Linked DNA regions of Homo sapiens. The protein of the gene in region 4 purifies or fractionates together with the protein of the main gene of each other region. This does not show direct contact. Each region holds a gene or a part of one and is shown on either strand. Other genes may lie near its edges.

The links.
Region 1: the proteins of DENR (region 4) and PDLIM5 purify together in Homo sapiens (affinity purification with mass spectrometry; 2 studies listed by BioGRID and IntAct, with this or other methods). This does not show direct contact.
Region 2: the proteins of DENR (region 4) and VDAC2 purify together in Homo sapiens (affinity purification with mass spectrometry; 2 studies listed by BioGRID and IntAct, with this or other methods). This does not show direct contact.
Region 3: the proteins of DENR (region 4) and TALDO1 purify together in Homo sapiens (affinity purification with mass spectrometry; 2 studies listed by BioGRID and IntAct, with this or other methods). This does not show direct contact.

Annotation. Positions count from the first base shown.
Region 1 is NC_000004.12:94,454,811-94,462,414, forward strand, and holds part of PDLIM5 (PDZ and LIM domain protein 5), read left to right. Parts: intron 1-436; 5' UTR 437-478; coding exon 479-574; intron 575-1,008; exon of another isoform or gene 1,009-1,433; coding exon of another isoform or gene 1,434-1,748; exon of another isoform or gene 1,749-2,374; intron 2,375-7,604. UniProt on the Homo sapiens protein: May play an important role in the heart development by scaffolding PKC to the Z-disk region. May play a role in the regulation of cardiomyocyte expansion. Isoforms lacking the LIM domains may negatively modulate the scaffolding activity of isoform 1.
Region 2 is NC_000010.11:75,205,637-75,214,015, forward strand, and holds the start of VDAC2 (non-selective voltage-gated ion channel VDAC2), read left to right. Parts: upstream 1-5,159; 5' UTR 5,160-5,302; intron 5,303-5,497; 5' UTR 5,498-5,522; coding exon 5,523-5,553; intron 5,554-5,845; exon of another isoform or gene 5,846-5,947; coding exon of another isoform or gene 5,948-6,023; intron 6,024-6,593; coding exon 6,594-6,662; intron 6,663-8,379. UniProt on the Homo sapiens protein: Non-selective voltage-gated ion channel that mediates the transport of anions and cations through the mitochondrion outer membrane and plasma membrane.
Region 3 is NC_000011.10:742,923-750,816, forward strand, and holds the start of TALDO1 (transaldolase), read left to right. Parts: upstream 1-4,541; 5' UTR 4,542-4,559; coding exon 4,560-4,656; intron 4,657-7,894. UniProt on the Homo sapiens protein: Catalyzes the rate-limiting step of the non-oxidative phase in the pentose phosphate pathway. Catalyzes the reversible conversion of sedheptulose-7-phosphate and D-glyceraldehyde 3-phosphate into erythrose-4-phosphate and beta-D-fructose 6-phosphate.
Region 4 is NC_000012.12:122,755,458-122,763,061, forward strand, and holds part of DENR (density-regulated protein), read left to right. Parts: intron 1-6,729; coding exon 6,730-6,749; intron 6,750-7,387; coding exon 7,388-7,472; intron 7,473-7,604. UniProt on the Homo sapiens protein: Translation regulator forming a complex with MCTS1 to promote translation reinitiation.

The DNA.
Region 1 (7,604 bases), on a different chromosome or scaffold from region 4:
TTAGAATTTAAGTAAGTGCAGTTGAAAGACTCTTGTCAATTGCAGACAAAAGAATACATGAAGTGGAGGGAAGGAGAAAATTATTCTGAATTCAACCTGAAATAAAATCTTGCTACATTAGTGAAGTATTGTAAAGTACTTTGAGTTAAACTTTGCATGCAAGAAGCCACAAAATTGGATTGAAGCAAGTTGTGAAACATACTAAGTGTCTAGAAATGTATTCTGATATGGAATTTTTAGACCATGGAAATTGCCATGAGTGTAGAAAATTTATATTAGCTCACAGATTGCTTTTCTTAAACTGAAATTAATGAAGAACTTAATTAAGACTTATCTTCTATATCCTCTCACCCCCCTCAAACAAAATACTAAACATAATTTATGTTCTAGGGTTTCAAGTAAACATTTTTGCTAATCATCTGATTTTCTTTCACAGCATATTTCATTTTCTGTCATTGGACTTTGAGCCATTAGAACCATGAGCAACTACAGTGTGTCACTGGTTGGCCCAGCTCCTTGGGGTTTCCGGCTGCAGGGCGGTAAGGATTTCAACATGCCTCTGACAATCTCTAGTGTAAGTAAACTTTACAAATTTTATTATAGATGTTCATTCAGTGCTTAGTCCTCGGGCTGAGTTGTTTAATTCTCTGTTGACCTGTACTCTACTTATTATCATTGCTCCTGGGATTTGATCTTGGCAAATTTGATTATCTATAATAAAGGATGAGGGGAGTAGATTTAGCAAGGATAACTGACTTCAATTTAACTTCTTTTCGTTTTCCCCCATGTTATCAATAATAAAATGGAAAAAGCATTTAACTAGGAACAGACTGTACATTTTTGAACTGTCCCTAATTTGGGGAATTCTCTGAATCTTCGTTCTTTCATATATAATTTTCAAAGGTTGTGCTATGGGATTTTAATAATCTCTTTCAGTTCCAAAAGCTGTTTGTTAAAAACTGTTGATCAAAATTGAATAAAATGATTGTTTCGGAATTATTTCCTCAGCTCACTTTCTGGTGGAGGTGATAGCCAACAGTAAGATGGCCAAAAGCTACTTACCCTTGAAGAGGAAATGAAGGGCTTGGAGCTCCAACTAGATAGCCTATGAATAATTGAGATTTGGCTTTTTACCTCATTATGGATTTAGTTTGAATGTATTCTGTGTATATATTTTAAGGATATGTTTTCATGATGATGATGATAGCACTGATGAGAGGAGTAATTAAAGCTTCTATTTATTGAGACTTGACTATATGTCAGGTACTGTTTCACTTTCATCACCAGTAGGTAATTATTACTATTATATAAGTTTCTAAAAGGTTTGTTTTTGCATATTCAAATAAATATGAATTTCCATCTTCTTTTACTCAAATGGTGGCATATTATACACACAGTTTTTTTTGAGACAGAGTTTTGTTCTTGTTGCCCAGGCTGGAGTGCAGTGGCGCAATCTCGGCTCACCACAACCTCCATCTCCCGAGTTCAAGCGATTCTCCTGCCTCAGCCTCCCGAGTAGCTGGGATTACAGGCATGTGCCACCACGCCTGGCTAATTTTGTATTTTTAGTAGAGACCAAGTTTCCCTATGTTGGTCAGGCTGGTCTTGAACTCCCGACCTCAGGTGATCTGCCCACCTCGGCCTCCCAAAGTGCTAAGATTACAGGCGTGAGCCACCGTGCCTGGCCCACACTGTTTTATACTTTGCTTTTTTTTGCAACAATTTACCCTGAGATCATTCTCTATTAATATATAAGGAGGTATGTGTGTTTTTTTAAAACAATTGTATAATTTTATTTTATAAGGAAAGTGACATTTAACCAATCCCCTACTGAAGAGTATTTGTGGCATTTCCATATTACTGTTACAGTGGTACAGTGAATACCAAATATAAGTACATACATATATATGTGAATATATGTATCTACGTCATTTTGAAAGGTTGTGCCAATTTACACTTTTGTGCAACGCATGAAAATACTATTTTTGTGCCAGTCTTACCAACAAACTTGGATATTTATCAAGTGCTGTGAATGCATCATCTCATTTAATTATCATACCAACATGCAAAATAGTGATATTATTCCCATTGTATATAACTGTGCTGTGCGCTCACATGACTGTATGGAAGAGCTGGCTTTCCAACAGTTATGCTGTGCTGCCTCTTTAATAATTCACTTTACCTTAAATTTAGTTAGTTGTTTCTTTAATCAGATATTTAGAAGATTGTCATTTTGGTTAATAATATATGTGTATGTATAAATATATATACACACACATACTCTGCATCTTGTATGTGTATCCAACTTCATTTTGAAAGATTAAAAATAAGTTTGTAACGCCTAAATATCCTTATTAAAATACTGCAAATCCCATTTTACTAACGGAGTCTCCTTTGTTTCTTGGCTGTGGATTTTTTTAAAGTTATCTTTAATTTATCATCAATTTCTGCCTTGATTTCAGTTAATTAGATTTTATAAGGAAGTATATATATGTAATCCAGCCTGCAAGTTTTAACACCTTTCATGGTTAGATGAAATTTTAAATGTAAAGCATCCATGTGAAAATGTGTCATGTGATTTATTCCTGTTTGAGTGAGTTGGTATTTTATTTCTTCTACTGATGATCTATTATGGGAACAGGAGCAATCTTTGAGTATTATTGGTTTTTACGTTTTGTTAGCATTTTATATTTTAAATATTCTACTTTAATTATCTAAAGAAAGTTATTAGTTTAAATGCTTACTTTTTTGCTGAAAAAAAGTTCAGAAACAAATTGACACCTAAATGAGCCAAACTTAATTATCACTTTGTTGTGTGGTAATAGAAATGCAAATAGAGTATGTTTGCGAATTTTGTGGTACCGTGTCTTTAAAAAAGTTTCATGTGCTTCAGTTTCCTGGCAGACAGTTTGAGGTACTAGCTCCATGTTGTGATGCTGATACAACAGAACACTGTGTACATACATATGTGCCCTCCCCTGGCACAGAAGAAATGCTTTCCTTGTGTAGACAGAGTGCTAATTAAAGGATTTTGAACATACTGATTAAAAGAGACTATGGTAACAAAGCTGCTGAGTTATTTCTGTTCTCTTACAAAAGTCTCTGCCATCTACTGTGACCTTTTTGGGCCTTGTGCAGTGGGGCATGCAATTCATTCTGGACTGGAGAGGATTGGAAGGGGAGGGGAAGGAGAGAAGGGAATGTTGGCTCAATCGGGCTGCTAGGCTCTTGGCCTTTCATTGTAGTTATTTTTAACCCCTTGTGTGGTTTAAATATGCCTAGTAACATTGCCTAATAAAGGTTTGCGTTTAATAACTAATTTATATTGTGGTAAGATTGTTAATGTTATAAATTTTTAACTTACTCTCATCTTAATTAGTTCTTTGGTTATACTTTTTCTGCCTTAATTATGTAAAATTACTGGGATATTACTGGTCATCAGGTTCTTTAATTAATAGTATCAAGAAACAATTAAAACCTGAAAGCATGCTTAAAACATGTAATTTAATGATTCACTTACTTTAATAATGCACATGAAATTCTTAGCAAGGTCTGGCAGTCTCTCAATTATCTTTTATAATAATATTATAAACTTTAAAAAGAAAACTATTTAGAGACTTGAAACATTAAATATTTAACCCCCGTAGTTGTAGGGAACATACAGTTATGGTTTTGTTTTGTTTTTTTAAACTTATTGTCCACTGAAATTAAGAAAGGAAAAAAAATCAGAAGTTTGTACTTAGCTGGGAATCTGCATCTTTAGAGTTCAAAACTGTGCAATTTTTCCTCTGATTAGGTATTATTATGTTGAACTCCAAAGGGTCATTTACATTCCTTTATAACACTGGAGCTCTGGTGTATCGAATTGTGTTATGAGATAAGCCACTAGCAGGGACTTGAACATTCCATTTTCTTTAGATTTTGTTGTATCAGCATGTGAATATGCTGAATACAACTTGTATCCTAAAGCATACAAGCTATAACATTTTCACGTTGGACTCAAATTTCTTCATCATCTGTATTGTATGAATTTTGTATACTGTTTTGTTGGTGGATTTCTAACATAAGATTGCCAGTTCCTGCTAGCTTTTTAAAAAGATCCTCAGGTTGCTGTAGCTGGATGATCACATGTCATTTAATTTCCGATCCTTAAAATGGAGTGCGGGCTACCTAAGTTTGCAGGCTGTCTTTTTATGATCCTGTGTTTATGGAATTGCCCTGAAGCCATGGAATGTGAGGATGGGTTTCATTGTAGCAGTGTGGGTTTGTTGGTTTTTGCCAGTATATTTTATAACAAGAAATAGGAGACTTGTTGGATAATTCAAGGCTATATTTTGGCCAGTTGATAAAGATTATATATTTGTGAGTAACATCTTTTAAGTTGTTATATCCTAAAGTTGAAATACTCTGCTGTGTGTTACTTTCTCATTATGTTTGGGCTCTTTTCTTCACTGTCAATATTTGGATTACCTGAAGATGATATCCCAATTCTCTGTAAACACATTTTAGATGTTTCTTTAAGAGATAAGAATTAGGTCAAACTTTTTAACATCTAAATAACAATGACTTTGATTCTCAAGAGTTAGGGGAGGATAAATTGTTATAAGCTTGGACAAAATTCTAATTGGATTTGAAAAGCAGAAGAAACTTACTATTGCTTGGATTATGGAGCCCTGTTTGGGAGTCTAACACAGAACAGAGAAGGACAGAATTGTGAAACACTTTGCTATGAATTCATTGATTCAGTAGTTATAGTAATACTTCCTAGAAGCCACTGAAGAAGATACAAAGTGGGGAGTACAAAGGTTGGATGGAAAAGAAATAAGCACAGTGCTATAGAACTAGACAGTGTCGTAAGACCTGTCACAAGTCAATATTCTATGAAATGACAGATTCTGATAAGTGTTTCTCAGTTTCAGTGGGTGTAAATCTTTTGTTTGTGGGGGTTGGTTTCCTTTAGGAGAAGTTAATTGAACTGATCCTCAAAGGATGAAATTTAAACACCTCAAAGTCAGCATTTCTCCGTGTTGTCCAGTGCCTAGTGAAGATGAAGACTTTTCTTGCCATTGCTTGACTCCAAGTAAAGCTGTGAATGTAGTTGAGCGATTCTCCAGACCTGCCAGCTGCAGTTTCCCTCCTACCGGAAGACAGAAAGACTTTCAGTCCTCAAGCTGAAATGAGAGAGCCATCCTACCTTGAATAAATGGGCCCATTGTTAATTTTAAGCTCTTGAGTATTTTCTTTTATATTCCCTCCAAGCTACCCTGTCATTATGCCAAGTTAGAAAATTAATTTAGTTTGTATAACTATATGATGTATATTTCACATGTGTGTTCACTCTGCTTTAAAAATATTAATTACCTTTTGTGTGAAGTTCAGAGACCTGTCTTTTCCCATGTGGCAGTTTTATATGTTTTGTGGTCACAAATGTCAGGAATCTCAATGTAATTCTGGATAAATTTTTCTGCTCTATGATTTGTAAAGAAATGAAAATCTTATATTTTTTAATTGAAAATTAGTAGTTTTAGAAAAAAACGCACTTATTTGATTTTAGTAAACGTTGGGCATTTTGAAAAGTTATTCAGAGAAATGTTACTGGTAGGCAGGACTTTTGTATCTGATGGAGGAAACCGATGTAGGGTTTGGATAAAATAAGACTAGCAGGCTGGGCACAGTGGCTCACTCCTGTAGTCTCAGCATTTTGGGAGGACAAGGTGGGAGGATCACTTGATACCAAGAGTTCAAGGTTACAGTGGGCTGTAGTCATGCCACTGTACTCCAGTCTGTGCCACAGAACCAGACCCTGTCTCAAAAAAAAAAAAGAAAAAAAAAAAGGTAAGAATAGCACTTTAGACCTTGGGAAAGAACGTTTTCATGTAACTATTCATCTACTCGTGAGTTAGGTATATCTACCTACTTAAACTAAGAATAGATAGATAATAGATAATGTACAGCTGTATATTGGAATGACTTGGATTTAAATCTTAGCTGGAAAATCAGTTCATTAATTTGAGCTTCTGATTTTCTTTGATGTATGGGAAATGCTTTATAAATTAAAAAGTATACAGGTAGATTTGATTATTATTAATAATTTGGAGCCTGTGAGCTTTCAATTTTTTTTAGAACTTCTGAGGCAAAGAGCTTTTCTTTATGATAGTTGCTAGTCACACTACATGTGAATACACAGTTGAACAGTGGTCTTTGTCTATGACATCCTGTTAGCAGTAGTTCTTACCCAGATTCCCATATACCACAGGACCAGTTATATCTTTTTCCCCCAGTTACAACTGTATTGAGGACAAATCAGTTATGATTTAGTTATTTCTAGAAGCAAACGTTGCTTTAGACAAAAAAGGAGTTATTTAGCATCGTATGAGAGAGAATTATGTTTCAACTTTGGCAGATGAGACTCTAGGCCTTTATTTCAGTATCTGAGATGCAAAAAATATTGAGTACGTGACATAAAATTTGACAAAACTAGATATTAGCATGTGAAATAACAATATGTGGATCTGTTTGCAAATAAATGACCTAATGGAAATGAAAAGAGAAAACATTAAGTAACTAAAGAGCAGTGACCATGGTGTCTACTGATTCTTTAGGTATTCTATGTGTTGGGCCACTATATAGTCTTGTTGAGAAGGCAGGTTTGGTTCCTTAATTAACAGAGAGGGAAAAATCACTTTTCTAGCGTACTTTGTTTTTATTAAGAGGTTTTTTTTTTAAAGGTAATAAACTAAGAATGGACAAAGCAGAGAATATTGAATGAGTATCCCCTTATTCCTTCACCTTTCTTATTTTTTTGTTTCCTGTTTAAGTATAGTTATCTACCCTTCTGTAAATACTCAGATTTCTTTTATAGCTGATGTTGTCACCCATTTTTTATGACAATTACTAGAACAGAGTTCACCAACCTTGTTGGCATTTAGTAACTGGACTCCCAACTGGGCTAAGCAGTTGTAGTAAATGTCCCTAATAGGCGTAAATAGAGGAGAGTAAAATGAACTGGAAATGTTAATAGGAGGGAATGAGAAAGAAAAAGTTAGATGAGAGAAAAAAATAAAGAGGACTTTTTAAAAGGCTGCAGCGTGTCACCCAGGCGGGAGTGCAGTGGCGCGATCTCGGCTCACTGCAACCTCCACCTCCTGGGTTCAAGCAGTTCTCTGCCTCAGCCTCTTGAGTAGCTGGGATTACAAGCATTCGCCACCATGCCCAGCTAATTTTTTTGTATTTGTGGTAGAGACAGAGTTTCACCATGTTGGCCAGTCTGGTCTCGAACTCCTGACCTTTGATCCAGCCACCTCAGCCTCCCAAAGTGCTGGGATTACAGGCGTGAGCCACTGCACCCAGCTTAATTTTCTTTAGGTAAGACATTCATATGGTTCAAAATTCAAAAGATACACGAGCGTATAGGGGGAAATGTCTCCTGGTGCCCTGCTGTTCATTTCCTCCTCCTGGAAGCCACCTGTGTTAGTAGTATACTTCCAGAGATAATCTATAGGTATATCTCCTCCCCACCCTCCTTTTAACACAAATAGTATGCTTAATAGAAATACTTTTTTTTTTGGCATTTTGTTCACTTAACCCAACATCAGTAAATATAT
Region 2 (8,379 bases), on a different chromosome or scaffold from region 4:
TCTCTACTAAAAATACAAAAATTAGCCGGGTATGGTGGCACGTGCCTGTAGTCCCAGCTACTCAGGAAGCTGAGGCGGGAGAATCACTTGAACTCGGGAGGCGGAGGTTGCAGTGAGCCAAGATTGTGCCACTGTACTCCAGCCTGGGTGACAGAGCGGGACTGTGTCTCAAACAAAAACAAAAACAAATCAAAAGCAAAAAAATCATATGTGGTTTCCAAACAATTCTTGCCACTTCAAGCACTCCTATGATTTTGCACATCCTCTTTCTAGAATTTTGCCTTCCCAGCCTCCACCTGTTGGCTTTCTAATTTTGGTAAGTCCTGCTTTCAAACTTTAGTGCAAGTAGCTCCTCCATCTGACTGTGCTCAAGGTTCTCTGTATTTACATCTTAGAACTGTACTTGCAGGAGCCGAGTGTGGTGGCTCACACTTGTGATCCAGCTACTTGGGAGGCTGAAATGGGAGGATTGCTTGACGTCAGGAGTTCAAGACCAGCCTGGGCAACACAGCAAGACCCTGCTCCCCACAAAAATACTGTACTTGTGACATCTTGAGCTTGTCTTTCCCATACCCCATCCTTTGTTGGGGCCAATTCTCCATGGTGTTTCTACCCATCTTATGGCAGCTTTTGTCTCAGACTATCTTTCCAAGGATGTTTACTTAGCAAACAGCCTTGGAAGATAGTATCTCTCTCTGGGGCAGAGAAAAGATTTTATTTCCTGAGCAGTATAATAATCTCCCCCTCAGGGATTGTGAACCCCGAAAATTTGAGAAATTTCAGAATTTAGAATTTAAATTTGAGAATTTAGAAAGTTTATTTTGCCAGGTCAGGCATAGTAGCTCATGCTTATAATCCTAGAACTTTGGGAGGCCAATGTGGGTGGATCACCTGAGGTCAGGAGTTCGAGAGCAGCCTGGCCAACATGGTGAAACCCCATCTCTACTAAAAATACAGAAATCAGCCGGGTGTGATGGCAGGTGTCTGTAATCCCAGCTACTTGGGAGGCTGAAGCAGGAGAATCGCTTGAACCTGGGAGACGGAGGTTGCATTGAGCTGAGATTGTGCCACTTCACTCCAGTGTGGCAGTGTGGGCGAAAGAGCGAAACTCTATCTCCTCTGTCTCAAAAAAAAAAAACAAAAAGCAAAAAAAAAAAAACCTGGCGCCGTGGCTCACGCCTGTAATCCTAGCACTTCGGGAGACCGAGGTGGGCGGATCACCTGAGGTCAGGAGTTTGAGAGCAGCCTGGCCAACACAGTAAAGCAGCCATCTCTTTAGTGTGGTAAAATTACAAAAATTAGCCGGGCGTGGTGGTGGCGCTCCTGTAATCCCAGCTACTCAGGAGGCTGAGGCTGAAGAATCGCTTGAATCCAGGAGGCAGAGGTTGCAGTGAGCAGAGATCACACCATTGCACTCCAGCCTGGGTGGTAAGAGCGAAACTCAGTCTCAAAAAGAGAAAAAAAAGAAAGTTTATTTTGCCGAGGTCGAGGACACTTAGCCTTGACACAGCCTCAGGAGGTCTTGACGACATGTAACCAAGGTGGTCAGAGCACAGCTTGGTTTTATACATTTTAGAGAAACGTAAGACATCAATCAACATATGTAAAATAAACATTGGTTCGGTCAAGAAAGGCAGGACAACTTAAAGTGGTCAGGAAGGGCGGGACAACTCGAAGTGGGGAGAGGGCTTCCAGGTCACAAGTAGGTGAGAGACAAATGGTTGCAATGAGTTTCTGATTAGCCTCTCCAAAGGAGGCAATCAGATACGCATTTATCTCAGTGAGCGGAAGGATGACTTTGAACAGAATGGGAGGCAGGTTTGCCCTAAGCAGTTCCCAGCTTGACTTTTCCCTTTAGCTTAATGATCTTGGGGGCCCAAGATATTTTCCTTTCACAGTATGAAGGTTGGGCAGATTTGTTAGCAGCTCCTTCTAAGACACGTGGTTTTGTAAGCTTAGGGTTCCTTGGCTGTGACACGAATGCATGCTGTGCACAGCATCCACCTAAGCTGCTCTGGCATCATCCTTGAGGGACACAGAGGACAGGGGGAATTGAGGCAAAACACGAAGCTTACACTGCCTGCTGGGCCACAAGTAAGAGAGTCTTTTGTCCTTGACCCATACGTCTCATGTCTTCTGCTAGCATCTGTGAGCCTCTGAAACTATGGCAGACTAACTTGATAGTTTGCAAGTAGGGTAAACTTTTGGACCCTCCCCTGTTCTTGACATCTTTACACACACTTGACTGTTAAGTGCCTTGAGAGTAGGGACTGTGTCTCAGTGGACTTTGCTTACCCTGTGGATGACACAAAGTAGTTGCTTGTGGTAGGTAGTAACTACCTACTAATGCCGCTTTGGTCTAAAGGACTTTGGATGTAAGCACTCATATTTATTTACTAAATTCAGCTCTGGAAAAAACTGCCATTATTCCCCTGTTTAGCCACAGATCTTCTTCCCCTGGTCATTAGGTATTGTGTACATTCCTTGGGTTTGCAGAAGGTGAAGCCACAGAGAAAGTGAAGTGCAGGGGGCTACAAATTGCTACAGAAAATTCACATTGTGAATAAGCCCTGCTGCAGGTAGTGGAGGTGACTCATTTATCAGACTGGGTGTTTCGGGGAGGTAGGGTGCTGTGGTGCAGTTGGGATGGAAATGCCGGTCTTTGTTGTTAGCCTCACAATAACATCAAACATACCAGACTATTTCCCAGAAGAGCCAGGATGACTGCAAACCGACCTGTCTGAGCTCGAATGAAGGAATGAATGAGGGCTTCTGGTGCCTGATGTCTTAGAAGTAAATTCTGCTAACCTTTTGCAACATGAGTAAGCCCAGTCATGACCAGGCAAGACAGCTGGCTGGGCTTGCTCATGGGAGGGAAATCTTCCAGGCTGCAGCTTTCATCTGGGTTTTGAACTGTGGAAGCCTATCCTTTTCTGGTTTAGGAGGAGGGTAGAACGTTGAGAGCATTTGAGCAGACATGGCTTTCAGAGCCAGAGAAAGTCAAGGGGGAAAAGGCTTTGCTCAGAGACTATGGCTGATGGCTATTAAAGATCACTTCGTTTCATTTGTCATTTTATAGATTAAAAAAATGAGGTAGGCCGAGCGCGGTGGCTCACACCTGTAATCCCAGCACTTTGGGAGGCCGAGACTGGCAGATCACGAGGTCAGGAGATCGAGACCATCCTGGCTAACATGGTGAAACCCCGACTCTACTAAAAATACAAAAAATTAGCCGGGCGTGGTGGCAGGCACCTGTGGTCTCAGCTACTCGGGAGGCTGAGGCAGGAGAATGGCGTGAACCCGGAAGGTGGAGATTGCAGTGAGCCGAGATCGCGCCACTGCACTCCAGTCTGGGCGACAGAGCGAGACTCCGTCTCAAAAAAAAAAGAAGAAAACCCAAAAAAACCACTGAGGTCTACCGGCGACATTATTGGATAGATGACTGCTTTGGGAGTTCCAGTTGAACCCATTTCTATTTCATTAGACTGCTCATTTTTTCTTTTTCCTTTGGCTCTGTTAAAAGAAAAAATTACAAAGAATTTAGTTTAAACATCTTAACTGGCTTTTAGTTCCAATTCTACAATTGGGCAACGCTTCATTCTGTAAAATGGAATGAATGTTCCAATGAGAAGAGGAAGTTGGTATTACAGACAGAAAAGGACCGAGGAAAGCAGAAACAAAAAGTGGATTAGTTGGTAGAAAGTTACTTTTCTTGTAAAGGTTAAAGAACACGGGACTTCTTCATGCCAGCTAAAACTGACCTGTTTGGGGATTTTTGTTTTGAGACAGGGTCTTACTCCAGCGGGCAGGCTGGAGTGCAGTAGTGGCACCATCTAAGCTTACTACAGCCTCAACCTCCCAGGCTCAAGCGATCCTCCCTCCTCAGCCTCCCAATTAGCTGGGACTACAGGCGCCAGCCACCACGCCCGGCTATTTTTTTTTTTTTTTTTTTTTTTTTTGGTAGAGGCAGGGTATTACTATGCCTAGGCTGGTCCGGAACTCCTGAGCTCAGGCGATCCGCCCACCTCGGCATCCAAAAGTGCTGGTATTACAGGTGTGAGCCACCGCGCCCAGCCTGTTTGGGGATCTGGCTAGCATCTGTTTCTCTCCTGATTTCTTGGAAGGTCAGATAAAGATCCTAGCTTTGGCGTGGTAGTGTGAAACTTCAGCATGAGTAACCCCATTTTGGTTTGGTCTGATGGGCCTAATGCAGGAGGTCAGTCTAAACTAACGGTCTCCCATATACATTTTATCTAATAGCTCTGTCACCCTTCCTGCACACCCGGGGAACTCGGGTGCGGCATTCTAACGCCTGCTCAGCATGATTCCACATTTTCTCCAGGCCCATAATCCAGAGGAGGTTGGGCCCGGAGCAGGCTTGCCTCGCCAAGCTCCGGCTCCGTGCGTGTGTGAAGCAGTGCCATGCCTGAGTGGGGAGGAGCCGCGGAAGAGAAAGCGTAAGGCGGCGTGGAAATGGGTGGGGCACGCTAGGACCCGCTCACATTTGTTCAGGGAGAGGCAGTCCCAAAAAGCCTCTCAGGCACACAACCCAGCACAGCAAGGCAGTCACACCAAGGTGGGAAAAGAGGGCAGAAGAGCGCGAGGGGCTGGAGGTGGCGCCCCTGTGTCCCACTCGTTCTCCCTGGGCTGGGAAAGAGAAGCGGTCCCTCAGAAGCGCAGGCTGCGCTAGCTTAGGATGGACGTGGGTAACGCTCAGCTGACTCCCCGCAGGCACCCTATGCAGGGCTTTGTTTCGGGGGGGAACCCGCACCAGCGCGTAAGGGGAGTAGGAGAGATCTACGTGACCCTGGTGCGCAGCCGCGCCCTATCGCCCCGGCCACGCGCCGACGCCCCGCCCCGTCCGTGACGCGTTCGCGCGGGGCCTCCGCCCCATCCCCCTCCCAGGCGGTCCCCAGCGCGCTGCCTCCGCCGTTCCCCGCCCCCTCGCCTCTGAGGCTGCCCGGATAGCTGCCTGATCCAAGGCCCAGCAGCTTCTGCCTTCCGGATCCCCACCGACGGACGGAGGCAGCCCACCTGCAGGACCGGGGCGCTGTCGGTCCACGTGGCCGCTCTGGAGCAGGTTGGAGTTGGCAGCGGGCTGCGCTGCAGGGACAGGCGCGGCGGACAGCCCCGGGGGCAGCGGCGGGGTCCTGTCTGGGAGAGGACAGGGTTGCGGCGGGCGGAACGGTGTCTCCTTCACTTCGCCCTCCAGCTGCTGGAGCTGCAGCCCGACCGCGAGCGTGCCAAGCGGCTTCAGCAGCTAGCGGAGCGGTGGCGGCGGCCCCCCTCAGGACACCACCAGGTACCGCCGCGCCCGCCTCACGCCGACCCAGGGGCCTAGGCCGCGGCGGCCAAGCCGGAGGCCCGCGCCGGACTCGGAGTCGGCCCTGGCTTCCTAAGATGGCCGCGCTGCCCCGCGGCCCCTCGCCCCTCTCTGCCCGGGATCTCCCTTTGGCCCTTTGACCCCAGCTTACCGCACTTCTTGTCCCTCCCGCAGATTCCCCTCTTCCCGCGGCCTCGCCATGGCGACCCACGGACAGACTTGCGCGCGTCGTAAGTAAAGCTGGGATCTCTGCGGGATGGGGCGGCGGAGAGTCGAAGCCTGTCGACCAGAAACCCAGTTTGTTTCCCCCTATCTTTCCAAGAACTTGGAAATTCGGCTGCTTTTGGTGGTCGCCCCACCGTCTGACCACCTCCTCTGCGGAGGAGGGGCTGGGCTGCTGGATTTCAAATGGGGAACAAGGCCCGGGGAGTTGGTCTGTGGCCGCATGGACTTTTCAGCCTTTGTACATGTCTTTGACGTATAGAAGTAAAAAGTTGTTAATTGGGGATTCTGCCTTTGGAGGATCGGATCAATCACTTTTCTAGAGGAAGTAGCAGTCCCTCTTGTGAGAGCGCAAGGTCATTACTTGTGCTCCTAAGGGCGTGGACGTGCTTTGTGGAATGAATGAGCTGGTGTAATGAGCTCAGATTGCCTGCCCTTAAGCAGCACAGCATTGGCCGAGGACTTGAGAGTCACATTAGTAAGTTTGAAGCGCTATTTGATATTTAGTTGATGTAGACATTTGAGTGAAACACACATGGCAGTATTTTTTCCAAGTTTCAATATTTAAATTCCCAGTATTAAATTCTCTTCCCACTCCAGGGTGTTGGTTTTCCCCTCAGCGAAGATATTAAAGGACGTATCAGGGTAAAGGGCCTAGTCTTAGGTTTCGGTTTTATCTAATTTAGTTAAATCAGCTCATCTCAGTGAATTTTGGCAGATACATAAATATCCATACACACAAATACTTGTTTGATTCTTTGTACTTGTCCAGTCCTAGGAAGTGAGGCTGTAGGTAATAGACTGTTTTTCCGTTTTGAAACGAATTCCCCAAGTTTGTATAATCATGGTTATCTGTTTTAGAAATAATTCGTTGGTGGTATCTCCTTTATGGGTCGTTATAGTTCTATTGTAGCTCCTGACCGCATAAAAAACATTCCAACAAATGGGATTGCTTGAATTTTAATATCAGCAGTGGGTCATGCTCTTGTTCTTGGATAGAAGGTGGGAGAATAGAGACATTAACACTGGAATGTTTTTTTTCTACCAGCAATGTGTATTCCTCCATCATATGCTGACCTTGGCAAAGCTGCCAGAGATATTTTCAACAAAGGATTTGGTAAGAACCTTATTTTTAAAACGTTTTAGATAAAGAGTGAAAATGTATGTTTGGGTTGCTTAGCGAAATCAGATCAATCATTGCAAATTGTAAATATCTTGCTGCTTTAAATTTAGAGTTACTTATTTTTTTGAGACAGGGTCTCCCTCTGTTGCCCAGGCTGGATGCAGTGGCATGATTATACCTCACTGCAGCCTGGACCTCCTGGGCTCAAGCGATCATCTTTCCTCAGCCTCCCACGTCCCAAGTAGCTGGGACTACAGGCACGCTCTGCCACACCTGGCTAATTTTTTTTATTTTTCGTAGAGGTGGGGTCTCACTGTGTTACCCAGTAAACACAGTGGCCTCTCAAAGCCTGGTTGGATTACGTTACAGACATGAGCCACTGTGCCCAGCCTTGTATTAATTCTTCTATTAGAAACTTAAGATACTTAGATTAAACTTATGTGAAAATAGTTCTTTTACAGTCTACATCCCCCTCCCCCAATTTCCCAAAATTTTTAAAAACTGTACTTAGAAGATTTGAGCCTTTAAGAAAAACGGCTCGTGCTTTAATTTTTTTTCAGTTATAGCTTAGGCCCTGGTTGACTAGAGTTACGATATATTACTGTTTTGCTTTTGTGGTGACTCCTAATACTTTATCTAGAGTTATGAGCTTTTTCAGGTGAATTTGAGTTTTCTTGAAAATTTTGTTCCATACCCTCCTCCCCTTTATTTAGACTGTTGGAAATACCCCATTGGCATAAATGTCCTAAATGTCTGTATTATGATAAGTTGGTTTTGTTTTTGTTTTTTTTTGAGACGGAATCTCGCTCTGTTGCCCAGGCTGGAGTACAGGGGCGTGATCTCGGCTCCCTGCAGCCTCTGCCTCCTGGGTTCCAGCAATTCTCCTGCCTCAGCCTCTCTGGTAACTGGGATTACAGGCACATGCCACCATGCCCAGCTTTTTTTTTGTATTTTTAGTAGAGACGAGGTTTCACCATGTTGGCCAGGCTGGTTTTGAACTCCTGATCTCAAGTGGTCTGCCTGCCTCGACTACCCGAAGTGCTAGGATTTCAGGCGTGGGCCACCGCACCTGGCCATATCATGATAAGTTATTAGCTATTCTGAAATTTCAGTTGAATGATTTTTTAATCTGATATTTAAGTTTAAGAATAGTTTGGGGGCTGGGCGTGGTGGCTCACACCTGTAATCCCAGCACTTTGGGAGGCCGAGGCGGGCAGATCACGAGGTCAGGAGATCGAGACCATCCTAGCTAACACGGTGAAACCCCATCTCTACTAAAAATACAAAAAATTAGCCAGGCGTGGTGGCACGCACCTGTAGTCCCAACTACTCGGGAGACTGAGGCAGGAGAATCGCTTGAACCCAGGAGGTGGAGGTTGCAGTGAGCTGAGATCGTGCCACTGCACTCCAGCCTGGGCAACAGAGTGAGACTCCGTCTCAAAATAAATAAATAAATAAATAAATAATTTGAAAGCATTCTTTTGTGTACCAACTACCAAAAACTAGACAAAGCAGCATAGGGATAATTCTGCCCTTTATAAGCCAGTTTACAAAAGACGAATTTGTAACAATTTCATTTAAATATTGTATATTAACACATTTTTATCCACCTCTGAATATGTGGAATCTTTTTGTTTTTTATGTATAGTCAACAATTGCTATGCATCTTTCATACAAAGGAATCATTTTGTTTCTTTTGCTGTCTATTTGT
Region 3 (7,894 bases), on a different chromosome or scaffold from region 4:
TTTCCAGTTTGGACCTTTTGTCAATAAAGCCACTATGAGGATCTGTGTGCCAATCTTCTTGTGGAGAACTTTTTATTGAGGAGTGGAACTGCCAGTTCCCATGGTAAGTACATGCTTAAGTTTATGAGAAACCATAGGACAATTTTCCACAGCTCATTTTGTTCCACTTTCTTTTTTCTTTCTTTTTTTTTTTTGAGGTGGAGTCTCGCTCTGTTGCCCAGGCTGGAGTGCAGTAGCGCAATCTTGGCTCACTGCAACCTCCGCCCCCCAGGTTCAAGCAATCCTCCTGCCTCAGCTTCCCTAGTAGCTGGGACTACAGGCACATGCCACGATGCCTGGCTAATTTTTTTTTTTTTTTTTTTTTTTTTTTTGAGATGGAGTCTCGCTCTGTCGCCCAGGCTGGAGTGCAGTGGCGCGATCTCGGCTCACTGCAAGCTCTGCCTCTCAGGTTCATGCCATTCTCCTGCCTCAGCCTCCCGAGTAGCTGGGACTACAGGCACCTGCCACCATGCCCGGCTAATTTTTTGTATATTTAGTAGAGACAGGGTTTCACTGTGTTAGCCAGGATAGTCTCGATCTCCTGACCTCGTGATCTGCCTGCCCCGGCCTCCCAAAGAGCTGCGATTACAGGCGTGAGCCACTGCACCCAGCCTAATTTTTGTATTTTTAGTAAAGACGGGGTTTCACCATGTTGGCCAGGCTGGTCTCGAACTCCTGACCACAGGTGATCACCTGTCTCGACCTCCCAAAGTGCTGGGATTACAGGCGCGAGCCACCGTACCCAGCCTTTGTTCCACTTTCATTCCCACCAGCAGCGCATGGGTGTTCCTGGAGCTCCATGTCCTCACTGGCACTTGGTGTTGCCAGTCTTTTGTTCTCACTATGATCCATGTGGACAGATCTCATGGTGGTTTTCATTTGCATTTCCCTAATAAATACTGTATACCACCAAGCTTGTCCAGCCCTTGGCCTGCAGGCCGCATGTGGCCCAACACGAATTCGCAACCTTTCTTAGAACATGAGATTTTTTATTTGCAATTTTTTTTAAGCTCATCAGTTATTGTTAGTATATTTTACATGTGGCCCAAGACAGTTCTTCCAGTGTGGCAAGGGAAGACAAAAGATGGCTACCTGCTCTATACCTTCTTCTGTGATGTATATTTCCTATTTTTGCATTTCAATGGAGAGAAGAAAGTCCTCTCAACAGATGCTGGAACAGGTGGAGAAAAACTACTTTCCATATCCAGGTCACGGAGACAAAAATAAAGGGGGCCAGGCGCGGTAGAGAAAAACTACCTTCCACTTCTAGGTCACAGAGACAAAAATCAAGGGGGCCCTGTGCGGTGGCTCATGTGAAACCCCGTCTCTACTAAAAATACAAAAAATTAGCCGGGCGTGGTAGTGGGCGCCTGTAGTCCCAGCTACTCGGGAGGCTGAGGCAAGACAATGTCATGAACCTGGGAGGCGGAGCTTGCAGTGAGCCGAGATCGTGCCACTGCACTCCAGCCTGGGCGACAGAGGGAGACTCCGTCTCAAAAAAAAAAAAACAACAAAAAAAAAACAAACAAACTGGAGTGGCCTCAAAGACTCTTAACATAACAGCTGAAAACCAAGACATCATAAGAAAATATTTTTGAGGCCGGGCGCGGTGGCTCACGCCTGTAATCCCAGCACTTTGGGAGGCCGAGGCGGGCGGATCACGAGGTCAGGAGATCGAGACCATCCTGGCTAACACGATGAAACCCCGTCTCTACTAAAAATACAAAAAATTTAGCCGGGCGAGGTGGCGGGTGCCTGTAATCCCAGCTACTCGGGAGGCTGAGGCAGGAGAATGGCGTGAACCCCAGGGGGCGGAGCCTGCAGTGAGCCGAGATTGCGCCACTGCACTCCAGCCTGGGCGACAGCGAGACTCCGTCTCAAAAAAAAAAAAAAAAAAAAATATTTTTGTTGGCTGGGCGTGGTGACTCACGCCTATAATCCCAGCACTTTGGGAGACTAGGGTGGGCGGATCACGAGGTCAGGAGATTGAGACCATCCTGGCTAACACGGTGAAACTCTGTCTCTACTAAAAATACAAAAGTTAGCTGGGCGTTGGCCGGGCGCAGTTGCTTAACACCTGTAATCCCAGCACTTTGGGAGGCCGAGGCAGGTGGAACACGAGGTCAGGAGTTTGAGATCAGCCTGGGCAACACGGTGAAACCCCGTCTCTACTAAAAATACAAAAGTAGCCGGGCATGGTGGCCCATGCCTGTAATCCCAGCTACTCGGGAGGCTGAGGCAGGAGAATCGCTTGAACCTGGGAGGCGGAGGATGCGGTGAGCTGAGATCGCGCCATTGCACTCCAGCCTGGGCAACAAGAGTAAATCTCCATCTCACCAGAAAAAAAAAAAAATTTGTCACTTTGGAGCAAGCAAAGACTCCTTAGAGAAGATACCAAAAAAGAGGAGTAAATATAAAATTAAAACTTGATAAATTGAACTTAATCAAAATAAAAAGCTAACGTTCATTAAAGACACTATTAAAATGAAAAGGGAACACATGCTGAGAGGAAGTATTGAAACCACCTTTGCAAAATTATAACTAAGGAAATTATGACAGTGAAAGATAACAGACTTAACCAATTCCATCTTGTTTCTAACCTTCAAACGGTCCTTGTCCATTACTGGCCATAGGCCAAACAAGTCTTGGGAAGGAATTTAATTTATAGTTTAAATAATAGCCCTTCCCCAAAACTAGACTGTTCTTGTAAAATGAATGAAAGGCCACCAGCCACCAAGTTAGAATGAGAGGGGCTGGAAGTCTAAATATTATCAGCCATTATTCTGGAGGTCATAAGATAAGATTTGCAACTTCCCCAAGATATCAACACTACTGTGAACCTAGGGTTGGCCTTTTTTTTTTTTTTAAATGGAGTCTCGTTCTGTAGCCCAGGTTAGTGTACAGAGGGACAATCTCGGCTCACTGCAACCTCCACCTCCCAGGTTCAAGCCATTCTCCTGCCTCAGCCTCCCAAGTAGCTGGGATTACAGCCATGTGCCACCACGCCTGGCTAATTTTGTATTTTTAGTAGAGACGGGGTTTTGCATGTTGGCCACGCTGGTCTCCAACTCCTGACCTCAAGTGATCGCCTGCTTTGGCCTTTCAATGTGCTGGGATTCCAGGCCTGAGCCACCGCGTCAGCCTAGGATTTGCCTTTTAAGAAGTCTTTTCCGCCGGGCGCGGTGGCTCACGCCTGGAATCCCAGCACTTTGGGAGACTGAGGTGGGCGGATCACGAGGTCAGGAGATCGAGACCATGCTGGCCAACATGATGAAACCCCGTCTGTACTAAAAATACAAAAATTAGCCGGGCGTGGTGGTGAGCGCCTGTAATTCCAGCTACTCGGGAGGCTGAGGCAGGAAAATCGCTCGAACCCGGGAGGCGGAGGTTGTAGTTAGCCAAGATCGCGCCACTGCACTCCAGCCTGGGCAACAAGGGCGAGATTCCGTCTCAAAAAAAAAAAAAAGTCTTTTCAGGTTTTTGCATTTCTGACAACCGGATGGCCCCACCTGGACCTGCCAACCAGTTGTGTGGCCTCTACCCAGGGACTGACTCAGCATAAGCGGACAGCTTCGACTCCCTGTGATTTCATCCCTAGCTGACCAGTCAGCACTTCTGACTCACTGGCCCCCTACCCACCAAATTATTCTTAAATACTGGGATCCCCGAGTTTTGGGGAGACTGATTTGAGGAATAAAACTCTGGTCTCCCGAACAATCGGCTCTGTGTGAATTATGCTTTCTCTATTGCAATTCCCCTGTCTTGACAATAGACTCTGTCCCGGCAGCTGGCAAGGCGAACCCATGGGGCGGTTACAGTGTCTGCAACGCAGACACAAGCGACAGAGACTTGATCAGAATATACAAGGAACTCTGCAAGTCAGCGATGGTAAGAAGCAGGGCAGCTGGGCCTCCTACGCCTGCCTCGCCGTTCGGTCCCCCGGACACCTCTGGGCTTAGGACTCAGGGGAACAGATTCCCAGAAGCAGGTTCCCCGCCGCGTCCGGCGCCCGGGCTCTGCAGCCGCCCCCTGCTCTGCCTCCTGCACCCGCAGGGCGTCCCCCGCCGCTCCCTCCCCTGCTTCCTGCAGCGGCCCCCGACCCCAGTCCTGGCCCCACCATGGATCCTGCATCGCCGGGTTCGGCCCTGGCGGGTTCAGCCCCGCAGAGTCGGCACCCGGGCCAGGTCCATCTCCTCCAGCCCTCCCGGTGCGTCCCGCGGGGCAGGAAGGAGGCGAGGCCCAGCCGCCCCGTGTCGTGCAGGTGTTTTCCCGGGCCCGTCCGCGGCGGCTGCTGAGGACCTGGGGAGACCCAGCCTGTAGGATCCGCAGCTGCGGTGCGCGGCCGGCAGTGGCGCTCGGGCTTCGTCCCCGGGGGCGGGGCTTCGTCCAGGCGCGCAGGGACCAGCGGGCCTCGCCCTCCCGCGCCGCTTTCCGATTGGCAGCCGCCCGCGGGGCATTGTGGGCCGTCCGCGCGCCCGTCCCGTCGCCGCCGCCGCCGCCGCAGACCCCTCGGTCTTGCTATGTCGAGCTCACCCGTGAAGCGTCAGAGGATGGAGTCCGCGCTGGACCAGCTCAAGCAGTTCACCACCGTGGTGGCCGACACGGGCGACTTCCACGGTGAGGACGGCGCGGAGCCCGGGCGCGGCGCAAGCGCCCTCCAGAGGCCCCGGCGCCCCGATTTCCCCGGGTCTCCCGTTCCGGGACGCGGACCGGGTGGCGGTGCCCCGGGCGGCTCGTTCCGGGAGGAATGAGCGCAGGTGCCGGATGTTGGGGCCAGGGACAGCCGTGAGGGGAGCGGGGCCCGGGTCGGCCGTGAGAGGCGCAGGGCCAGCGGCGACCGTGAGGGGAACGGGGCCCGGGTCGGCCGTGAGGGAGCAGGGCCGGGGGCAGCCGTGAGGAGCTGGGGTCAGCCGTGAGGGGCTCGGTGCTGGGGTCAGCGGTGCGGGCGGTACTGACGGGTCCTTGCGAGCCGTGGGGCACGAAGCCGGAGCCCCAGCCTCGCCCTCCGCCCAGGGTGGGGTCGGCTGCGCCCTCAGACCCCGCACCCGGGACGGGCTGTGGGCAGCCCGCGGGAGCCCCTCTGTGCACCTTCATGGGTCGAGGCAGCTTTCAGAGCCTTTGAGTTCAGGAGAGATTCAGGGTAGAGCTTCGAGCTGACTTCCACGTGGCCAGTTTGTGGTCAGCGAGATGCAATTTTGTTGGGCTGATGTCTGCAGAGCGGGGACATCAGCTAGCTCTGACCAGAAGCTGCCAGTGCTGCCATCGCCCTTGAGCCCTGCGGTGCCCAGTGGGACAACTCCGTGGGCGGCAGGTGCCCGGCCTGCTGGACAGCCACCGCCAGACGCACCGGGTGGGTAAAAGCCGGTGCCCATGAAAGCACAGGGTTGGTACACTGTTAAATACTGGATTTTCCTGGGCTTGAGTTGTTTACATTGGAGAGAACTTGGAAAATACAAAGAAGGATTATTTATTAATACTTAGCTCTTCTGTCCTCTGCAGTGCAGAGTAGACGAGCCTTGTGTCTATGTTTTGTTGAGAACAAGTAATATTTTTTAAGAAAATCATGAAACGCTTCATGGATGAATGCTGCGAGCACCTAATACGGAAGTGACTTCCTCTCTTTTCTGCTTTCTCATGGTGACTTGAGAAACAGGCTTTAATTCCTCTTTGGTAACTGAGTAAGGGCATTGTTTATCTAGCAGAGCCTAGAGAGTGAATTGGCATGTTTGGCTGCTTAACCATAAAATATGGGGATTCAGTGACTGGCTTGGGGTGCCACAGTCTGCTCCGGACCCCTCTTTGGGAGATCCAAAGCTAGAGCTGTGAATCCCTCACACACACAGCCCCCCCGTTGTAGTCCAGACCTCTCTTCATAAGAAAGAAAGCTCCAGAAAAGGGGCTACACATTTTTCTGCTGCTCAGTTTTTTCCCTTCTTAGCACTGAGAATAATTTGCAGTTTGCCTGGTGGACAGAGCGCTCATCTGTATTGTTCCTTACTGGCCCTCACCAGTTAGGGCAGAGCTGGTGCGGAGTGTCAGGTCCATTACACTTGGCAGTGCAGGGCCAATAAAGATGGATTTTCCTAAACCCACACCCACAGGAGGGCTGGGGAGTCCTGGGTTTCTGGTTTTGTTTTGTATTGTTTTTTAAGAAAACTTCTGGCCCAGCGAGGTGGCTCACGCCTGTAATCCCAGCACTTTGGGAGGTTGAGGCAGGTGGATCACGAGGTCAGGAGTTCGAGACCAGCCTGACCAACATGGTGAAACCCCGTCTCTACTAAAAATACAAAAATTAGCTGGGTGCGGTGTTGCATGCTTGTAATCCCAGCTACTTGGGAGGCTGAGGCAGGAGAATTGCTGAACCCAGAAGGCGGAGGTTGCAGTGAGCCAAGATCACACCACTGCACTCCAGCCTGGGCGACAGAGCAAAACTCCGTCTCAAAAAAAAAAAAAAAAAAATCTTCTAAACCCAAGTTGTGACATTTTTTTTTAATGAATATTAACAAAAAAATACATTCATTGATAGTATATGTTCATAAATGTTATATAGTTGTAAAATAGTCTGTTGGGTTTGTGATCTGTAGTTTGTGAAGTGAAGGTTCTTAACTCCTTGTGGGAGGGAGGCACAGGCCTCTGGAAATAGAATCAAAGCTGTGAATGCTCTTCCCACAATGTGATCCTCCCCATTTTGCATTCAGTTTAAGGATCCCTGGACCCTGAAACCCATTTTTGCCCCAATGGGCCTTGGTTTTGTTTTAATTTTGTAAAAGCCATTTGCTAAAAGCTGACTTTATCCAGGGGTGATTTTACAGGACGAAATGGGCTGTTTTCAGTGCCTCATTCAGTGCATTCTGGCAGACCTGTGTTAGCACTGTGCCAGATGTCATGTTGAAATGAGTATAGATGCACAACAGGCTTTTTCTTAACTTGTCATGTTGAAATGGGTATAGATGCACAGAAGTTGCAAAATCAGCCCATACAGTCCTGTGAACCCTTCAACCACTGTCCCCCATGGTGACATCTCATGTGACCATGGCATGGCATCCACACCGGGAAGTGGGCACTGCTGTGGTGCTGATGCTGTTATAGACTGCAGGCCTGGCTCAGGGCTCCCCAGTTTCCCCCTGCACTGGGGCAAGGAGGCTATGTGACAGTTTCATAAAGTGTGTAAATTCCTGGACCACTGTGACAGGACATAGCTGTCCCATTGTCACTGAGATCCCCGTGTCCCTCAGAGACCCCTCATTCCCTGTTCCTTGGCAACCTCTAACCTGTTCTCTACCTCTATAGTTTTGTCATTAAAGGACCCTTTGAAAGTACTTATTCCAGCCTGCGCAACATGGTAAAACCCCATCTCTACAAAAAGGAAGAAAAAAAAATAGCCAGGCGTATTGGTGCACACCGTAGTCCTAGCTACTCAGGAGGCTGAGTTGGGAGGATCACTTAAGCCCAGGAGGTTGAGGCAGCAGTGAGCTGTGACTGCGCCACTGCACTCCAGCTTAGGAGACAAAGTGAGACCCTGTCTCAAAAAAAAAAAAAGATATTTATTTGCCAAATAAAGTTACTGAACTTGTGAACTTCGGCCGGGTGTGGTGGCTCAAGCCTGTAATCCGAGCACTTTGGGAGGCCGAGGCAGGCCGATCATGAGGTCAGGAGATCCAGACCATCCTGGCTAACACGGTGAAACCCCATCTCTACTAAAAATACAAAAAAATTATCTGGGCGTGGTGGCGGGCGCCTGTAGTCCCAGCTACTCGGGAGGCTGAGGCAGGAGAATGGTGCGAACCTGGGAGGCGGAGCTTGCAATGAGCCGAGATCGCGCCACTGCACTCCAGCCTGGGCGACAGAGCGAGAC
Region 4 (7,604 bases):
AATCCCAGCTACTTGGGAGGCTGAGGCAGGAGAATCACTTGAACCCGGGAGGCAGAGGTTGCAGTGAGCCGAGATCACGCCATTGCACTCCCACCCGGGCAACAGTGCGAGACCCCATCTCAAAAATAAAAAACAAAACTAAGGATGTGAGAAAAACTGATACATTTATTTTAACAAGATGCTCAGAATATAGATTCCTATTATATTTTTATATAATGATTACCTGTGAAACAACTCTTTAAATTTGGAAACCTATGTGAGTAAAGGATAAGATCTATTCCCTGTGACCTCAGAGGGTCAGTGAACTAGGACTAAAGTGGAAACTACTGAAAGGTGCCTTTCTACCTTGTCAACACTCTCCAGAACAGTACAGGCTTCCACTTAATGTAAAAACATTCTTATGCTTAATTGAAGAAACTAGTAGTGGAGATGGGATTAGACTGTACCTTTTAATTTCTAACATTACCATTTTGTAAAAGTAGTGGATTTTGTTAGCCAGCTTGGTAAGAAGGTATGATGACATTGTTAATAGAGTCCACATCATAATCAACAATTTACAAAGACTATAAACAATTTTTACCTAGTATCTCTGATGTATAAGGTCCTCGGCTAAGTTCTGTGGAGGCATATAAATTGGCAGAGGCCCTGTCTGTCTACATATAACTTAACAGGGAAGATGATGAATGCTGAAAGAAAGAGACAAGAAATAGGCCAGGCGCGGTGGCTCACACCTGTAATCCAAGCACTTTGGGAGGCCAAGGTGGGTGGATCAGCTGAGGTCAGGAGTTCAAGACCAGCCTGGCCAACATGGTGAAACCCTGTCTCTACTAAAAATACAAAAATTAGCTGGGCATAGTGGCAGGCGCCTGTAATCCCAGCTACTCGGGAGGCTGAGGCAGGAGAATCGCTTAAACCTGGGAGGCGGAGATTGCAGTGAGCCAAGATCGTGCCACTGCACTCAGCCTTTGAGAGCAAAACTCCATCCCAGAAAAAAAAGAAGAAAGAGACAAGAAATAAAGATTAAGGACTAATAGCTGCAGTGTCAGTACAGGAGGGGAGAGATTTGTAGGAAATTAGGGGAAGACTTCATAGAGGCAACCACAGCCAAATGGGGATTTGAAGGAAAGGTTGCATTCAGGCAGGCACAGAAGGGCTGAAGGTTGGACTTGCCAGGCAAAGGAGTGGAGGTAGGAAAGTATTTAATAGTGGGTAGTGTGGAGGGAGTTTCGAGTGTTACAGTTTGGTTGTATTGTGGAATTCATGAAGAGGGGCAGCCGGAAATTATGGCAACGTGGTTTGGGGCCAAGTTCTGGGGCACCTGATTTGTAGATAATTGTAAGTCATTGAAAGTTTTGGAGCAGTGAAGTTACATGAAGATGAATCTGGCAGCAAGATAACAATTGAGGGAGGCAGGCTTATTGGCCAGGCTATAATAAGACTTTAGACAAAATTAATGAGCATTTAAATGAGTGGCATAAGTGAGGAAGAGAGGTTGAAAAATAAATTATGGTAGGATGAACAGTATAAAGCAGTTAATCAGATTTGAGGACAAGGGAGATGGGAGAAATAAACTGGATGTAGTTTTGACAGACATTTAGTATTGCTGGAGTGCTTAGAGAAGAGGGAAAACCCTCCAATAGAATACCCAACTGATTAAAGAGAAAAATAGAAGCGATAGTGACATAGGCATTTTTCTTATCATTCCTTCCCCCTCCCTCCCTTTCCCCTTTTGCAAAAAGAAGGATGCAAATTAGAGAATTTGCTCTCAGCTAAAGTCTGGGGTTTCAGAGAGCAGCTCAAATTCATTTAGGAAACACGTTTTAAGCATCTGCTCTGTGGCAAGCATTGTGCTCCATATACAGAAATAAGACATAATTATCTCCTGGAAACTGAGCTTAACTGGGAAGACAAACATTTTAACAGGTGAGTTATAATGTACTAATTGTATACTAGAGGGGTGAGCAGACTGCAGTGAGAATAAAGAACCAACCAGTTCTACTTGGGAGAACTGAAAAAAGGGAAAGTTAAAGTATTGAGTGGATTTTATGTTTGTATATTTAATCTTCAAAATTGAAATATTACAGTTTTATTGATGATAAGCTTCTCAATTGTATAAGTGGTGGGGCCAGGATTAAAATCCAAGACAAGCCATTATAACATCAGCTTCAAGGAAACTTAGCAGAGTCTTGAAGGATGAATAGGTGTTTGCTGAAAAGAATGGCATGGATAGAAGTTCATTGTGGTTGGACCATGGGCTGGTAGGAGTTGAGTCTGGAGAAGTACGATAAGATGTTTGAAAAGTTCTTAATCTGGGAAGTGATGTGATTGGTTATATCTTTTTGGATAATAACTGTTTGGAAGGAAGGAGGAAGTGCCTGAAATGGGTTGAAACTGGCCACAGAAATCAAGTTTAGGAGACTTTATTTTTATTTTAATCTTTTCCACCCTCCTCCCCAAATTTAGAAGACTTTAAAGTATGAGATGATTGAGGCTTAGTGACACTGTGTGCAAAGTTAGTGATTTTGGTGACTGTTGACAGCGAAATTTGTAATTGAAAATATTGACTTTCAGGAAGCTGATTGTGGCTGTTCATTCTCTGTTATAGAAAGGCAGTTTTTGTTTGTTTGTTTTTCAGAAGGAGTCTCACTCTGTTGCCCAGACTGGAGTGTAATGGCGTGATCTCGGCTCACTGCAACCTCCGCCTCCAGGGTTCAAGTGATTCTCCTGGTTCAGCCTCCCGAGTAGCGGAGATTACAGGCGCCTGCCACCGTGCCTGGCTGATTTTTGTATTTTTAGTAGAGATGAGGTTTCACCATCTTGGCCAGGCTGGTCTTGAACTCCTGACCTTGTGATCCACCCGCCTCGGCCTCCCAAAGTGTTGGGATTACAGGCGTGAGCCACCAGACCCGGCCATTCTGATGTGTTCTTAAGACTAGATTTAGTTTATGATCTTGTGCCAAGACCACCACAGAAGTGCTGTTAATTTCAGTGCATTTTATCAAGAGGTACCTGGCTGTGGATTAGTCCCATTCCATGTTTCCATGTGGTGGTAACTTTGCTCATTTGGCCAGGCACAGTGGCTCACACCTTTAATTCCAACACTTTGGGAGGCCGAGGCAGGCAGATCATCTGAGCTCAGGAGTTTGAGACCAGCCTGGGCAACATAGTGAGACCCTGCCTCTACAAAAAATTAAATAAATTAGCCAGGTGTGGTGGCAAGTGCCTGTAGTTCCAGCTACTCGGAGGCTGTAGTGGAAGGAACACTTAAGCCCAGGAGTTCAAGGCTGCATGAGTTAAGATCACATCACTGCACTATAGCCTGGGTGACAAAGTGAGACTGTCTCTTTAACAAAAAAAAAGAAGCTGGAGTCTAGAGGCTTAATTTTTTATTTATTTATTTTTTTTTTGAGTTGGAGTCTTGCCCTGTTGCCCAGGCTGGAGTGCAGTGGCAGTCTCAGCTCACTGCAGCCTCTGCGTCCCAGGATCAAGCGATTCTCCTGCCTCAGCCTTCTGAGTAGCTGGGACTACAGGTGTGCGCCACCACACCCGGCTAATTTTTGTATTTTTAGTAGAGATGGGGTTTCACCATGTTGGCCAGGCTGGTCTTGAACTCCTGACCTCAGGTGATCCACCACCTCGGCCTCCCAAAGTGCTGGGATTGTAGACGTGAGCCACCACACCCGGCCTAGAGGCTTAATTAGATTCAAGTTAAACAGATTTTGGCAAGAAAGTTTCGTGGATGATGTTTCATTCATCATGTTGCATTGCATCAAGAGCTCATAATGTCAGATGTTTCACTATTAGTGATGCTAAGTTTGAAGGTGACGGCTAAATGTTTGCATTGAAAAGGTACAGTTTTCCCTTTCCAAATAAGTAAGTGATCTGTAAAGAGAAATTGACTTTTTTAAAGCAAATAATGGTGAACTTAAAGGAGCTCCCCCAATTTTTTTATTGCATTAGAATTTTGCTGAACCGGGCCAGGCACAGTGGCTCACACCTGTAATCACAGCACTTTGGGAGGCTGAGGCCAAGGCAGGCAGATCACTTGAGGCCAGGAGTTCAAGACCAGCCTGGCCAACATGGCAAAACCCTGTCTCTACTAAAAATACAAAAATTAGCTGGGTGTGGTGGTGCACACCTGTAATCCCAGCTACTCGGGAGGCTGAGCTACGAGAATCACTTGGACCCAGGAGGTAGAGGTTGCAGCCAGCTGAGATGGTGCCATTGCACTCCAGCCTGGGCAACAGAGCAAAACCCCAATTTTTTTTTTTTTCTGAACTAAATATTATTTGAAATAGTATACAAAATTTGTAGCTTTAGTATTTGCTGTGATGGTGTTTAACCAATAATTGTATAGTTATATCCTGAAAGTGTGGCTGAACAACTATGCCTAGTATTTGAACTTGAATTGTGAGGAATATAGGGCTGTAGCTAACCAGAGAGATCTTTGGTGGAAATAACCCTAAACTATAATAGACTAGACTGGACAAAACCAATGGATTCCAGTTTTCTTCTGCCACATACCACCTTTGTCATTGTATGAGCTGTTTAACTCTTTTAGTGCCCCATCTGTAAAATAGTGATTGTGTGGTAGCATGTTAGAATGTTAGTAGGGTGAGGTGAAGGCAGATCATTTTCAGCTGTCAGGTGCCACTAAGTTGCTTGTTTACTTTGTGTAACCTAAGTTAGTGGTTAATAGCATGAGCGTCAGAAACAGGCAGATTCAAATCCTGTTATCCAGATGCAAGTGGTTATGTACTCTAAGCCTCAGTTTCATCATCTGAATATAGATATGGTACTTATCTTACAAGGTTGTGATAACTAAACATAATAATGTATATAAGGCATAGCAAAACATTTGGCACATACTAGGTGCCCAGTGTGTAGTAATTGCTGTGACTACATGGTATACCACCTTCCTCTCCCTGAGAAATCTCAGGATATTGGACACACTGAACTACTCCATTCTAAACCTTAAACATAAAAACAAAAGGCCGGGCGCGGTGGCTCACTCCTGTAATCCCAGCACTTTGGGAGGCTGAGGCGGGCGGATCACAAGGTCAGGAGATCGAGACCATCCTAGCTAATACTGTGAAACCCCGTCTTTACTAAAAATACAAAAAATTAGCCGGGCGCGGTGGCGGGCACCTGTAGTCCCAGCTACTCTGGAGACTGAGGCAGGAGAATGGCGTGAACCCGGGAGGCGGAGCTTGCAGTGAGCCGAGATAGTGCTACTGCAGTCCGGCCTGGGTGAAAGAGCAAGACTCCGTCTCAAAAATAAATAAATAAAAACAAAATAAGCAGTTGACCCAGTATTAGAATTACGGTTAAAATTGGAAGCTTTTCCAGTTCTTCTAGTCCATTATTAGCCTGTACAGGCTCTAACACCAAATGACAGGATTGAACCAAGATTCCTTCTAGCTTTACACTTTCATGATCTTATGTAGCATAACATGAAAAAGCCTTGGCAACATAGCGAGATCCCGTCTCTACAAAAATAAAAAACTTACCTGTACATAGTGGCTCACGCTTATAGTCCCAGCTACTTGGGAGGCTGAAGCGGGAGGATTACTTGAGCTGAGGAGTTCGAGGCTGCAGTGAGCCATGGACACACCACTACACTCCAGCCTGAGTGACAGAGTGAGAGTGAGACCCTTACTCTAAAAAAAATAGGCCAGGTGCGGTGGCTCATGCCTGTAATCCCAGCACTTTGGGAGGCTGAGGCGGACGGATTACCTGAGGTCAGGAGTTTGAGACCAGTCTGGCCAACATGGTGAAACCCCGTCTCTACTAAAAATACAAAAATTAGCCGGGCGTGGTGGCACACGCCTGTAATCCCAGCTACTTGGGAGGCTGAGGCAGGAGAATTTCTTGAGCCCAGGAGACAGAAGTTGCAGTGAGCCGAGATCGTGCCTCTGCACTCCAGCCTGGCAGAAAGAGCAAGACTCTGTCTCAGAAAAAAAAAAAGGAAAAATATATTGCAAAAAGATGGTAGTAAAAATGCTGCTAAAGTTTATAAATGTGTCAGTATGAATAAAAAGTGGTGGCTGTTTTGGTAGAACCATCAAAAGAAATAACCAGGCTGGGAACAGTGCTTCACGCCTGTGATCCCAGCACTTTGGGAAGCTAAGATAGGTAGATCGCTTAAGCCCAGAAGTTTGAGACTAGCCTGGGCAACATGGTGAAACCTTGTCTCTACAAAAAATTAGCTGGGCATGGTGGTGTGCATCTGTAGTCCCATTTAGTTGGGAGACTGAGGTGGGAGGATCATTTGAGCCCCTGGAGGGGTGGAGGCTGCATTGAGCCATGATTGCACCACTGCACCCCAGCCTGGGCAACAGAGTGAGACCGTGTCTCAAAAGAAAAGAAATAACCAGTTTCCTTCAAACTCTGATGTATGGGAAATTGTTCGTGTCTTAGCTTAATTTTTTGACCCACTGAAATGGTTATGGTAAGACCTCATTATATACAAAATAGCATATTTTGATGTTCCATCAGCTGATGGAGACACTCTTTAGATGAAAAAGTCAAGATAGTATCATCTCAAATAACCATGTGCCTTTTACCCCAAAAACACTGAAGAGTAGCATTTGAAAAGTGGTATAGAAAACTTATAGGGAAAATGTAAAAATGAAGCATTTTCTCAAATATAAAAGTAAGGATAAGCCCTGTGTATGTGTGTACATATAGGTTTAACATTTCAAATCTTTTTTCTTTTTACTTCCTCAGTCTGTTCATTACCAACAGAGGTAAGTTCTTTAATTTTTTTTTTTACCTTATGTATTTGAAGTTATTCTTGGTTTTAAAGCTACCTTGAGAATTTTTTTTTATTTTTCATTTTTGATTATTTGATAGTAAAGCTTTAACCTTTTATAGAGAACTTTGATTTAGAGTAATTTTTTGGTCTTATATATTCTTTCCTAAATTTAGACCTTAAATCATACATGTGCATCTTTTGCACATGGCTGTGCAGTTTGGATTTTTGCATGGGACTTATGAATAGTCAGCTAATAAAATAAGAGTAACCTTAATGCCAAAATCTATACAAATGAGCAGAGGAAAGAAAGGGCAGTATAAATTATGTGTAAGACTTTCTAAGTCCAGCTCTATGAGCAAGTCATGAAAATGAGGCACTTATGTGCTCAAAGCAAGAAATAGAGGGAGAAGAAATAAATTGGTACTGTGAAGAGGTACCTAATCCTTCTTAATATCTAATTTTTTATGGGACATATCGTGGTTGAATACAGATTTCCTGTGGATAAGAAGTCAGATGGGAGTGGTTTGTTTTATTCTTTGTATTAACAAGTATAGGGGGTGATTTTTAATTACGACATATTGTTTGACTGAAAATGTTTTGTTGTGACTCAGTTCTTTTTTTTTCTCCTAGTACTGTGAATATATGCCTGATGTTGCTAAATGTAGACAATGGTTAGAGAAGAATTTTCCAAATGAATTTGCAAAACTTACTGTAGGTATGAACATTTTTTTTCTTGCATTAAACTTCTGTACCTGAGACAAATGCATGTATGGCATTATTCTAAAGATAGGAAAGTCCTCCTTTAGTAGGATATTACAGAATTAACATTTATCTGTTAGCTGTTTAA